2 separate regions of the Homo sapiens genome follow, and region 2 is linked to region 1. The links come from fine-mapping of genetic effects on gene expression. A gene starts in region 1. The other region holds a variant in brackets. All regions are shown on one strand. Distances are between the middles of the regions.

Region 1 (5,362 bases):
TTTCAGCTCAGTCAAGGTTGGAAACTGAGTTTGGAAAAAACGGCAACAGGATGTACCTTTCCCACTGTATCTGGCAAAAGGCTGCTAAGGTGCCAACCTATGAGATTCTGAGTTGCCAGGTTTTTTGTCAGTCAAGGGAGCCTGCTCCTGAGCAGAACCTAATTAATTGCAGGTAAAAAGCAATGGAGATTTTAAGACTCATAGGTTTACACGCACACTGGTGAATCCAAATGCTGTCCCAAATATATTCAGATAGAAATTATACTCCATTGACAAGAGAAAAAAGACTGCTACACAAATCCAATTTTTACCCACAGCTAAAACCGTGGTTATTTTGAAAATGAATGGCTGAGTCAAGTTCAAAGACTCCAGGACCAGTTACTGAGATGCTCTGTACCATCAGAACGGTCAGTGGGGGCAGGGCACGGTGGCTCACACCTGTAATCCCAGCAATTTGGGAGGCCGAGGCGGGCGGATCACCTGAGGTCAGGAGTTCAAGACCACCCTACCCAACATGGTGAAACCCCGTCTCTACTAAAAATATAAAAATTAGCCGGGTGTGGTGGTCGGCGCCTGTAATCTCAGCTAGTAGGGAGGCCTAGGCAGGAGAATTGTTTGAACCCGGAGGTTGCAGTGAGCTCAGATCTCACCATTGCACTCCAGCCTGGGCGACAAGAGTGAGACTCCGTCTCAAAAAGTAAAATAAAATAAAATGTTTTCTCGCCCAGAATTACTGCAAATCACAAGCCTGAACATCCTTGGAAGCTCAATTCAAACACTGCCTCCTTCCCCAGTCTCTCGGTGCCCGACAATCCCTCCTCAAGAGTCCTCAGCATTTCCCACAGTCATTAACTTTTGCCAGTTTTAATTACCGTAATTAGTACCCTTCAGAAAGCAGCTCTTAGAAAGCGAAGGCTGGGCCTTACTCACCTCCGTCTACCCTACAACAGCAGCTCCCAAACCACTGGTCTCCAGCCCCCGCTGGGTTGGCCTGGGGATTTAGTAACAGATTCGGAAACCCCACTCTCAGGGATTCGGATTTACTGGGGCTGAGGTGGGCCTGGAAATCTGAACGTCTTAAGTTTTCCAGGTTTTCTGCCCCCAAGTTAAATTTTGTAATAAGGCCCTAAACTACAACATCAAGCTGGAAGTCTTGCATATGAAATATTCACGCGTTTTGACAGATGAAACCCGGAGACTGTAACCCACAGGACGCAGGGATTAACACAGGCCCTGTTTCAAGCTGCTAGGATGCTGAGCTCAAACCACAGCCCACAGGGACTCCCACTGGCAGGGGCCAGCGCTTAGGAGATGAGCGGACCCCTTAACTTCAAGGAGAGGGGGAACTTCCCGTGGACCAGAAAAAAAAAAAAAAAACTACTGTTAATTATCACAAAATCACAGGATGACAGAGGAGGCATCCTGTCTTCCAGGCTTCAAAAACACGAAGGATTAAGATGGTGATTAATTCAATCTCCAGTGCAAATAAAAACGCCAAGCCCCTGAACTTGCACCGGCCCGGAACGCGGCCGTTCCACAGCCCGCGGGTGAAGTGCGGCCCGGAAGCCGCGGGCGGGCGACGCGCAAGGCAGCCCAGGCCGCGGGTGGAATCGGGGCGCGGGGGCCCGCGGTGCCGCCGGGCGTTCAGAGCCGGTCCCTCGGGTCGGCCCACGCGGTCGCGCCGGCGCCTTTCACCGCCACGCAGAGGGGCCGTGGCCACGACGGCTCGGCCCTTTCCTTCCTGCGTAGCGAAAATGGCGGAGCGGCCTCTCCGAGCTCCGCGAGCGACCGGGCCTCCGACAGGGCCGCCAGTGGGCCGGACGGGGCCTGGCCAGGCAGGAGCAGGCCCCGTGCAGCCCGCGCCGCCCGCCGCCTCCCAGCGCGGGCGCCGCCTCAGCCGCCCCGGGCCTCAGGCCGCCCCCATCCCGCCTGCTCTCCCTTCCCTGGCCGGCCCGGCGGCAACGCCGCTTACCGGCAGCCGGGCGCGGCGAGCGCTCGGGCTCCGGCAGGTCCCCGAAGAGGTCCATGGCGGAGGCTGGGTGGAGGCGGCAGCAGCGACAGACACTCAGCCCGCGAGCAGCGGCCGGGCTCCACACCCCGGGCGGGCGGCAGCAGCGGGCGGGCGACGGGCAGGGGCGGCCGGCGCCGTCAGTCACCTGCAGGGAGAGTCCCGGACGCCACCAATCGGCGCGCGGCGTGGCCCGGCCGCCCCAGAGGGCTGCGCGCGGGCTGGGCGGGGCGGCTGGGGGCGGGGCGGTGCGCATGCGCGTGGGCCCCTCCCGCGCCCCGACTGCGAGCCGGGCGGACGGCGCCGTCTGGGCCCCGCGGTGTTTCCCGCCTTGGCGAACCCCGGGCCCCTCCTGCTTTTCCTTGGCTGGGGGTGTCCGATTTCTGTCAAGTTTCGTTGAGTTCCTGTCCAAGAAGCCCTGTCCAGAGAGAAACGTCTGAGCTCAAGGGCAGCCCCTGATGCCTGGGAAGGCTTTCTGGAGCTCTTGCCATCTCTTCGGCTCGTCCTTTCACCACGGCGTGCCTGGTTTCTGGCCTGTTTTAGAGACTGAGAAACCGAGGCTTGGATGGAGCGGCCCTGGGCGTCAGGACGGAAACCTCAAAAGATGCCGGAGGGAAAGGAGGCATTCCCTGACTTGTCTGCACCCACTGGTGTCTGTGGGGAGCGGAGAAGAGGGGCTCCTCCTTAATGGTGTCCCCCTCCATGCCTGTAAAGAGAAAGGCGGCCACTGACATCGGGGAGCTGGCCTGGTTCTGCAGCCAGGACTTGGGGTTGGTCTGGCACAAACAGCTAGGCCTGGGTGTTCTCTTTGAATGTGAACAATTTCATAAAACACCAACATCAGGCCGTGATACAGATCAAGAGAAAAAAACAGACCACTGTGTAATCAAGTGTGAACACAGACAAAACAGGAACACTGTCCAAGCCACAAAAGTGACCACATTCCCCTCGTCTTGGCCAATAAGAGTGATTGCTGCTTCTTTACCATTACATGTTTAGCCTTTGTCTCGTCCTCCTGCCGTCTAGATAAGCTTCATCAAGATATCCAATCATGGAATCCTCCTCTTCCTGACATCCAATCCGGAGCAAAGGCCCGTTTCCATAAATGTTTCCCCAAATCAACTAACACAAACCCAAATCTTACACCTCCGTTCCAACATCGTTTACCCAAGTTCCCCAGGTTATGTGGTCTCCCTCCATGCAAAGAGTTTTCAGCCCAGTTCATTCTGGGGCAGATGTATTTCTGACGCTCTCTGGCTGTAGGACATGGAGGGAGCCCAACAAGGCTTCATGCCTCTCATCTGCGTGGCTTCTCACTAGCAACCGTTTGAGATATTCATGCTGCCTCCTCCATTACAGCAGAAACACTCAAGTAACAATGCTTGTAACCGTTAAAGAAAGAGGAAATAAATACAAAAAGCGGCTCAACATTAAAAGGTTTATTTCAGAGAATAAACCTGAGAGGGGATTCTGGCCAATTTCGATCAGGAGCGCTCTCTCTTACAGACTAAGCATTCTCTCTTACAGACTAAGGATATTTAAGGGTTTTGGAAGTGGGGGAACGTTTATTGCAGGGTTGGAATGTCTCTGGTCGGAGGGGAGGCTATTGGAGGAGAGGTTATTTCAGGGTTAGCATGTTTCTGGTTGAAGAGAGGTTTATCTTAGGGTTGGAATATTTCTGGTTATGCTGACATTAGCCGTTAGGCTGATGTTTTGGGGTAGGATTTAGGTGGTTTTTTAATCAAGGGGAACTTAGAAAGGTGGTGTTTGTCCAAGATGGCAATGCTCCTGCTCTATCAATCCAGTCTCTATAGTTATGAAAAGGACAAGGGGCAGCGCATTTTTTCTGGCTACTTCCTGCTGGGGGAGTGAGCAGAGAGTTCTTTGGTTTCAGATTGATTGTAGGAGTAACGCTGTCTGTAGATGTTTTTGGGTAATTGTCTGTGAGATGGCCATGATCCTGCTGGTTAAAAATCTTTGAAAAAGGTGGCCAGGCGCGGTGGCTCACGCGTGTAATCCCAGCACTTTGGGAGGCCAAGGCGGGTGGGTCACGAGGTCAGGAGATCGAGACCATCCTGGCTAACATGGTGAAACCCCGTCTCTACTAAAAATACAAAAAAAAAAAAAAAATAGCCAGGCATGGTGGCGGGTGCCTGTAGTCCCAGCTACTTGGGAGGCTGAGGCAGGAGAATGGTGTGAACCCAGGAGGCGGAGCTTGCAGTGAGCCGAGATCTCGCCACTGCACTCCAGCCTGGGCGACTGAGCAAGACTCCGTCTCAAAAAAATAAAAAAAACTTAGAAAAAGGTTAATTAAGCAGGGTAAGAACATTATTCCTAGGCATATTTTTAGGAGAGAGCCCAGGAATGGGATGACCCATATTAGGACTTTGTTTTTAAACCAGTAATTTATTTGGTTGTCTTGTTATTCTCTTAGCTTTTTAGCCCTTTCTTTAAGTTTTTTAGCAGCGTCTCTTACTAGGCCCAACTGATTGAGATAGAAGCAACATTTTTTACCGAATGAGAGGCAGAGGTCCCCTCTTTCAGTTGTTATAACATCTAATTCCTGTCTATTTTGGAGGACTACTCCAGCCAAGGAGTCTACTCCAGCCAAGGAGTCTAGTTGGCCTTGGACTCTTATAAGGCTTTGGGCCATATGCTCTAATGAACTCTGCAGTTCTGTTGAAAGAGATTTCAAGTATGTTAAGCAGGTGGCGAATCAGCCTGCTCCCAACCCAAGCCCGGAGGTTATACCTAAGGCAGCCATTAAAGGAATGACGTGGATGGCTCTCCTCTTCCTAACATATTGGATGGATGGAACGGGTAAAGATTGATTAGGAGGAACTAGTCCAATGGAGGGAGAAAGATAAACTAGGGTACAGGTTCTGGTCTGGTTGATGGGGAGACAAAGAAATATGTGTTGAGACCACACAAAAAGAACAAGCCTTTATTGTAAATACAAGCAGAGATATGGACAGAAAATAAGTGAATTAAAGATGAGGTGTTTGTTCTTTCCTGTGGTTCATTACTCCAGGTGGACAAGGAGGAGGCCTGGGAGACACCTACTATACTAGAGGTATAGGAAGAGTTATTTTTTACAGATTTAATGCGGTCGGATGCTGCACTATTGATATTGAGCCAAGGAAAATTGTGGGCACTAGGAGCAGCACAGGTTAGGCTGGAGGCATTGGCTGAGGGAAAGGCTGTCAAACGAGCCAGCTGCAGAAATGCTCCGTTCGCTTCAGGTGATACTTGGTAGTTAGCCTGGTTAGTTTGATGGTCAGAGGGGTGTTTAACAATGATAGTGTGGTTGCATAGGTTAGATGTTAAGGACCCTACAGGGAAATTTCCCTCCGA
Region 2 (5,362 bases), 41 kb before region 1:
CTCCTCGGCACCGCAGCCCCCATCTTCCCACCACAACACCCTGGCCTGCGCATTGGTCAGCCAGCTCCCAAAAGAAGGCCCTGCATCCCCCCAGATCAGCCAGGAACCAAAGGCAGTGACTTGGCAGCCGGCTTTGTCTCTGATAAAAGGGCCCAGTCAGCTCTAAAATCCCAGGGTCCTTCCGTCAGCCCCCAGCGTCAGCACCCATGACCTCATCTAAGCCCTCTTGGGCCGGTTTCCTTCCCAGCTGGCAGCCTTGCCTGGAGCCCAGATAGCCCAAGGCCTCTCCCAGGAAGGTCCCTCCCAAAACTGTGCTCAGTGTCAGCATCAGTCAGGATGCAGCGCGGACAGGAATGGGAACTTCCGGAAGCATCACTGTCCATGTGTCAGTGTCTCAGAAGTGCTGAGGAAATGAAAGTCTCACACAGAGGCCTCGCGTCATGACAGCTCGCCTGGTCCTCTCCCCCACTGGACTGTAACCCGAGGCAGCTGTGAGAGCTGAATTTGCCTCCTTAGAACTTCTGACACTGGGGGAGGATGGACAGAGGAGGGTTGGCTAGTAGTTGGGCTCCCTGATAATCACAGTTGCTTCTTCCTGAGCACCTATGGGTGCTCCAGTGGTCGGATCCTCCTGGTGACTGGAGGACGGTGTGATCACTGCAGCTCCTCTGGAGGAAGGAGGCCCAGCAGTACGGGGATTCACCCCGATATCCAAGCCCTGCACCCCATTTTCCCTCCAGGCATCTTGGGTCTGCCTCTCCCATGAGTGCCAAGTCCAGGCCGAGGTGTGGCCCGTTCCCTAGGAGTCATCCTCCACGGGCCGGGGGAGAAGCTGTGAGGGGTTGGGGCCCCTTTGGGAGCTGCCTTTGAGGGCACCACAGGTGACAAGGACCAGGGTCCCAGAGTACAGAAGGCCACACAGTCACCTCCTGCAAAGTGTCCCACCTGCTTGGTAGGAGCCCAGTGAGGCCAACCGCCCTGCTGGGCTGGCTGTGTTCCAGGAGCCCACCGCTGAGCGTGCACACAGCGTCGACCCCCGGGACGCCTGGATGCTCTTCGTCAGGCAGAGTGACAAGGGTGTCAATGGCAAGAAGAGGAGCAGGGGCAAGGCCAAGAAGCTGAAGGTGAGGCCGGCATCCCGTCAGTGCCAGGCCGTGGGGGGTTCCGCCTCCTCGCTCCTCATCCACTCCCACTCCTACATCCTGAACATTTCCAATAGCACACCCCTCACGCCTCGGCCTGGGGACAGAGAACAGAGAGAACCCAGGCAGCCCCAGGGGGAGCCCCGAGTTAGGGGCCTGGTCCCAACCATTTCCCCACACCCCTAAAATGCCAGGCTCTCCCTCTTTTCTCCTCCCTCTGCATCCAGGCCAGGGAGGCTGGGCTAGCCCAGGCTGTGGTGAGAACCTTGTCCACACTGGAGGGGCCTGCAGGAGTGCCTGGCTCCCAGGGACTAGGGGCACAGGGTCCCTCTCACCCTCACTCAGCCTTAGGTCTTGGCCTGGGCAGAAACTTGGTGCTTGGTCCTGGTGCTGCCTCCTGCTTGGAGCCCCCAAAATGGAAAATACGGGGTGTGGGCTTCTCTGTCCCCTGGGGGCCAGTATCACCTGCCTGGGATCTGAACACACGATGGAAGGCCAGCTCGGAGTGCATGAGGCAGGTGCACAGGCCGCGCTGTCCTCGTGGCCTGGCCTTCTACCTCTGCCCAGCCTCCTGGCCCTGCCCTAAGCTTCTCCCCACAGGGGGCTCACTGGCTTCTGGTTCGGGTCCCAACCCAGCCTAGTGGGGACCTGCTGATGGTGGACTCGGGCCCAGTGCAGACCCTGAGATGCAAGTCCCCAAAAGCAGCCTAGAGTCTTCTTCCCTCCACGAGGCCTGGCCGCAGGAGCGGGCTTCAGCCCTCTGCCTCCCCACTCAGAGCAGAGTCCTTCCCTGCCAAAGCCCCGCCCCGAGGGCCCCCACCTCCAGCACAGTCCTTGTACTCACTCCAGGAGAAGCTTTCACTGAGGT[A/G]GATCCTTGGCTGGAGGTTGGAGCCCACTGGGGAGCTCTGTTGCCTGCCTCTTAGTGGCAAGAGCTTGCACAGGGGATGCTGTGGCTCCCAGCCTGCTCCTCACATGTCCTCACTGCCAAGGTTCCCTTTCAGTTCGGCTTGCCAGGGCCCCCTGGGCCTCCCGGTCCCCAGGGCCCCCCAGGCCCCATCATCCCACCCGAGGCGCTGCTGAAGGAGTTCCAGCTGCTGCTGAAAGGTAGGGGTGTGCACCGGCTGGGACACACACACCCCGCTGTGAGCAGGGCCTGGGAGGGTGTCCCGAGGAGCTGACAGGGCCAACCTCAACACTTCGGCGGGCACCCAAGGAGGCACCTGCTCTGGGCTGGACTCAAGGACAGTAGAGCTGGCCAGGTCCAGTCTCTGCCCCATCTTGGCCCATGTCTGCCAAGGGTCAGGGCTGGGGATGGCTGGGGGTTGGGAACCATGGCCAGGAGAAGGCTTCACAGAGGAAGGTGGACCTGGCCACTCAGTATGGCGGGTGCTCAGGGACCAGCGCCTATGCCCTGCCTGGAAGTCAGGAGAGCCCAGCGAAAGGCAGAGGCTAGTGTATGGGGCAGCACCAGGTGGAGCTCAGCCTGGCACCCACAGTCACCACTGGCCAGGGCTGGGGCAGCCTGCCCTGGAGGAGGCAGGGCTGAGTGGAGCCGCGGAGTCCACACTGAGGCCTCCTGCAGAGCGGCGGCTCACATTAGTCATTAGAATTGAGCCGTTTTTTCCTTTTAGTTCAATGTCCTGTTCGTTTAAATATAGCACCTTCTGCGCTGAAGAACCTCCTTGTACTTCCAGTAAAGCTGCAATCGCTTATTTTACCCCCAGCGTCTTTGGAAAATGTGGGTGGGGTAGAGGTGAGGCTGGAGGCCAAGGGCGCTGGGGCACTTCTGCCCGAGCTTCCCAAATCTTGAGGGAAACGGGAGCCGCTGCAGGGTCAGGACGCAAAGACTCCGAGGCCCTTCAGGCCGAGGGGACGTCGCCCTCGCCCCACCCCTGCGCCCGGCAGGCCCCTGGTCTCGCTAGCACCTGTCGTTCAGGGCTGGACCCACGCGGCGGGCGGGTGAGGGGTCCCTGGCGCGCGGCCACCGCTCGCTCTGTGCCAGGTGCGGTGCGGCAGCGGGAGCGCGCGGAGCCCGAACCCTGTACGTGTGGCCCCGCCGGGCCGGTCGCTGCGAGCCTCGCCCCGGTCTCGGCCACCGCCGGGGAGGACGACGACGACGTGGTGGGGGACGTGCTGGCACTGCTGGCCGCGCCCCTGGCCCCGGGGCCGCGGGCGCCGCGCGTGGAGGCCGCTTTCCTCTGCCGCCTGCGCCGGGACGCGTTGGTGGAGCGGCGCGCGCTGCACGAGCTTGGCGTCTACTACCTGGTGAGTGCCGGCGCGCGGGAGGGCGGGTGAGTCCGGCCGGGCGGGAGCCGGGGTGACCATCCGTGCCCCTCGCAGCCCGACGCCGAGGGTGCCTTCCGCCGCGGCCCGGGCCTGAACTTGACCAGCGGCCAGTACAGGGCGCCCGTGGCTGGCTTCTACGCTCTCGCCGCCACGCTGCACGTGGGTGAGGCCCGGGGCGTGGGAGGATCGCCCGCTCTGTCGCCCACCCCGCCGCCCGCCCGCTTGACCACGTCCCACCCTCCCCCGCAGCGCTCGGGGAGCCGCCGAGGAGGGGGCCGCCGCGCCCCCGGGACCACCTGCGCCTGCTCATCTGCATCCAGTCCCGGTGCCAGCGCAACGCGTGAGTGTACCCCGGCCCGGACCCCACACCCGCATTCGCTCGGCCTCCACAAGCTGGAGGTGGTTAAACAGGCACTGGACGGGGCTTCCGCCCGTTCACACCCCACCGTGGCCTAGGTGACCCCACACCTTCTTCCAGGTCTCCCGGTCTACTTCTGCCCCTATCAGGCCTTCCCTTCACAGCAACTGGGAGCTGTTAAAAATGACCTTTCCAGCTGGGCGCGGTGGCTCACGCCTGTAATCGCAGCACTTTGGGAGGCCGAGGCGGGCGGATCACGAGGTCAGGAGATCGAGACCATCCTGGCTAACATGGTGAAACCCCGTCTCTACTAAAAATACAAAAAATTACCCGGGCGTGGTGGGTGCCTGTAATCCCAGCTACTTGGGAGGCTGAGGCAGGAGAATGGCGTGAACCCGGGAGGCGGAGCTTGCAGTGAGCAGAGATAGCGCCACTGCACTCCAGCCTGGGCAACAGAGCGAGACTCCGTCTCAAAAAAACAAACAACAACAACAAAAAAAAACCTTTCCAGGCCACTCCCTGCCCAGACCTTCACCTCCTCCCCAGGTCCTAGGAGGCCGGGCTCCTCCTAGCCTCCCAACTCCTTCCCACCTCAGGGACTTTCATCTTGGGGCTCGAAGCACCAGTGTTACTTCAAGAGGCCTCTCCAGACAGCTTTCTGGAGGCCCCCTCCTCAGTCGCCCTCCCACTCCTCACCCGGGAACTTTCTTCCCCATGATCGCATCCCTTGCTCCTGCACCATCTGGCCCACGAGTGCAGTGACTGTGAGCTCCCTGTCTCCCCACACCCAGAAGGGAGCCCAGGTACAGCGGAGATACCCTGCGGGTAGGATAGCTGGAGCAGACTTGAATGAATGGATCAAGTCCAAAACTTCTTAGTCTGCCTTTGAACCCCCAGAGTGTGTTGGCCTGAACTAACTTAGCATCACCTGCCACCACATCCCCACTTCCGGCTGCATCAGCCAGTGTCCTGTTTCCCATCAGAGCCAGGGCTTTGCTGCCTCTTGCTGGGCCCTCGCCTTGCCTTTCCCAATACAGCAAGCATGCCTCTGGCCCTGTGTCCTTCCTCCTCTTGGGGACTCGGTTCAGACACCACCTCCACTGGAAGACCTGGCCAGGGTCAGGCACTTTGCTGGGCATGTGTTGGCTGCTGGCAGGATTGTGTGTCGTAGGTGAAGTTGGTGGGGTCTCATGGGGCAGGCTGACCCTCCCTCTGTTTTGGGTACAGCTCCCTGGAGGCCATCATGGGCCTGGAGAGCAGCAGTGAGCTCTTCACCATCTCTGTGAATGGCGTCCTGTACCTGCAGGTGAGTGCGGCAGGCTTGGGCATCGAGGGGCACCGCCTGGGCATGGCCACGGGTGGCTGGGTGCAGAAGGGTGCTGTTAGATGCTCAGGATCACTGGGTCGGGTGCAGCACCCTCAGACTCCAGGCCTGGGAGAGGGTCCAGGACATGCCAAGTTCTCACTTTGGTCTGGGCGCAGCCAGGCTTCAAGTCCTGATCTCCTTCCTCCAAACACAGCCCTTCCCCGAGGGCACCTGCCCGCTTGAGCAGCTGCTCCGCTCTGCATTCCCAAT

Evidence for each region.
Region 2: its variant is fine-mapped to the expression of ILKAP in whole blood (INTERVAL, PIP 0.98).

What each region holds. Positions count from the first base shown.
Region 1 is chr2:238,201,527-238,206,888 of GRCh38, forward strand. ILKAP (ILK associated serine/threonine phosphatase) reads right to left here and starts at 2,169. Exons shown (of 12, transcript NM_030768.3): 1 at 1,973-2,169. The coding sequence starts at 2,027. RefSeq lists enhancers at 1,156-1,215, 2,178-3,050 and silencers at 1,586-1,675, 1,796-2,365.
Region 2 is chr2:238,160,593-238,165,954 of GRCh38, forward strand. It overlaps ERFE (erythroferrone), which reads left to right. Exons shown (of 8, transcript NM_001291832.2): 2 at 1,002-1,124; 3 at 2,144-2,246; 4 at 3,145-3,407; 5 at 3,483-3,591; 6 at 3,678-3,768; 7 at 5,014-5,092. Among named protein-coding and RNA genes, the nearest start is that of ERFE, 4.3 kb to the left of the region's middle. RefSeq lists an enhancer at 2,566-3,066. The variant A/G (reference allele first, on the strand shown) is at 2,011.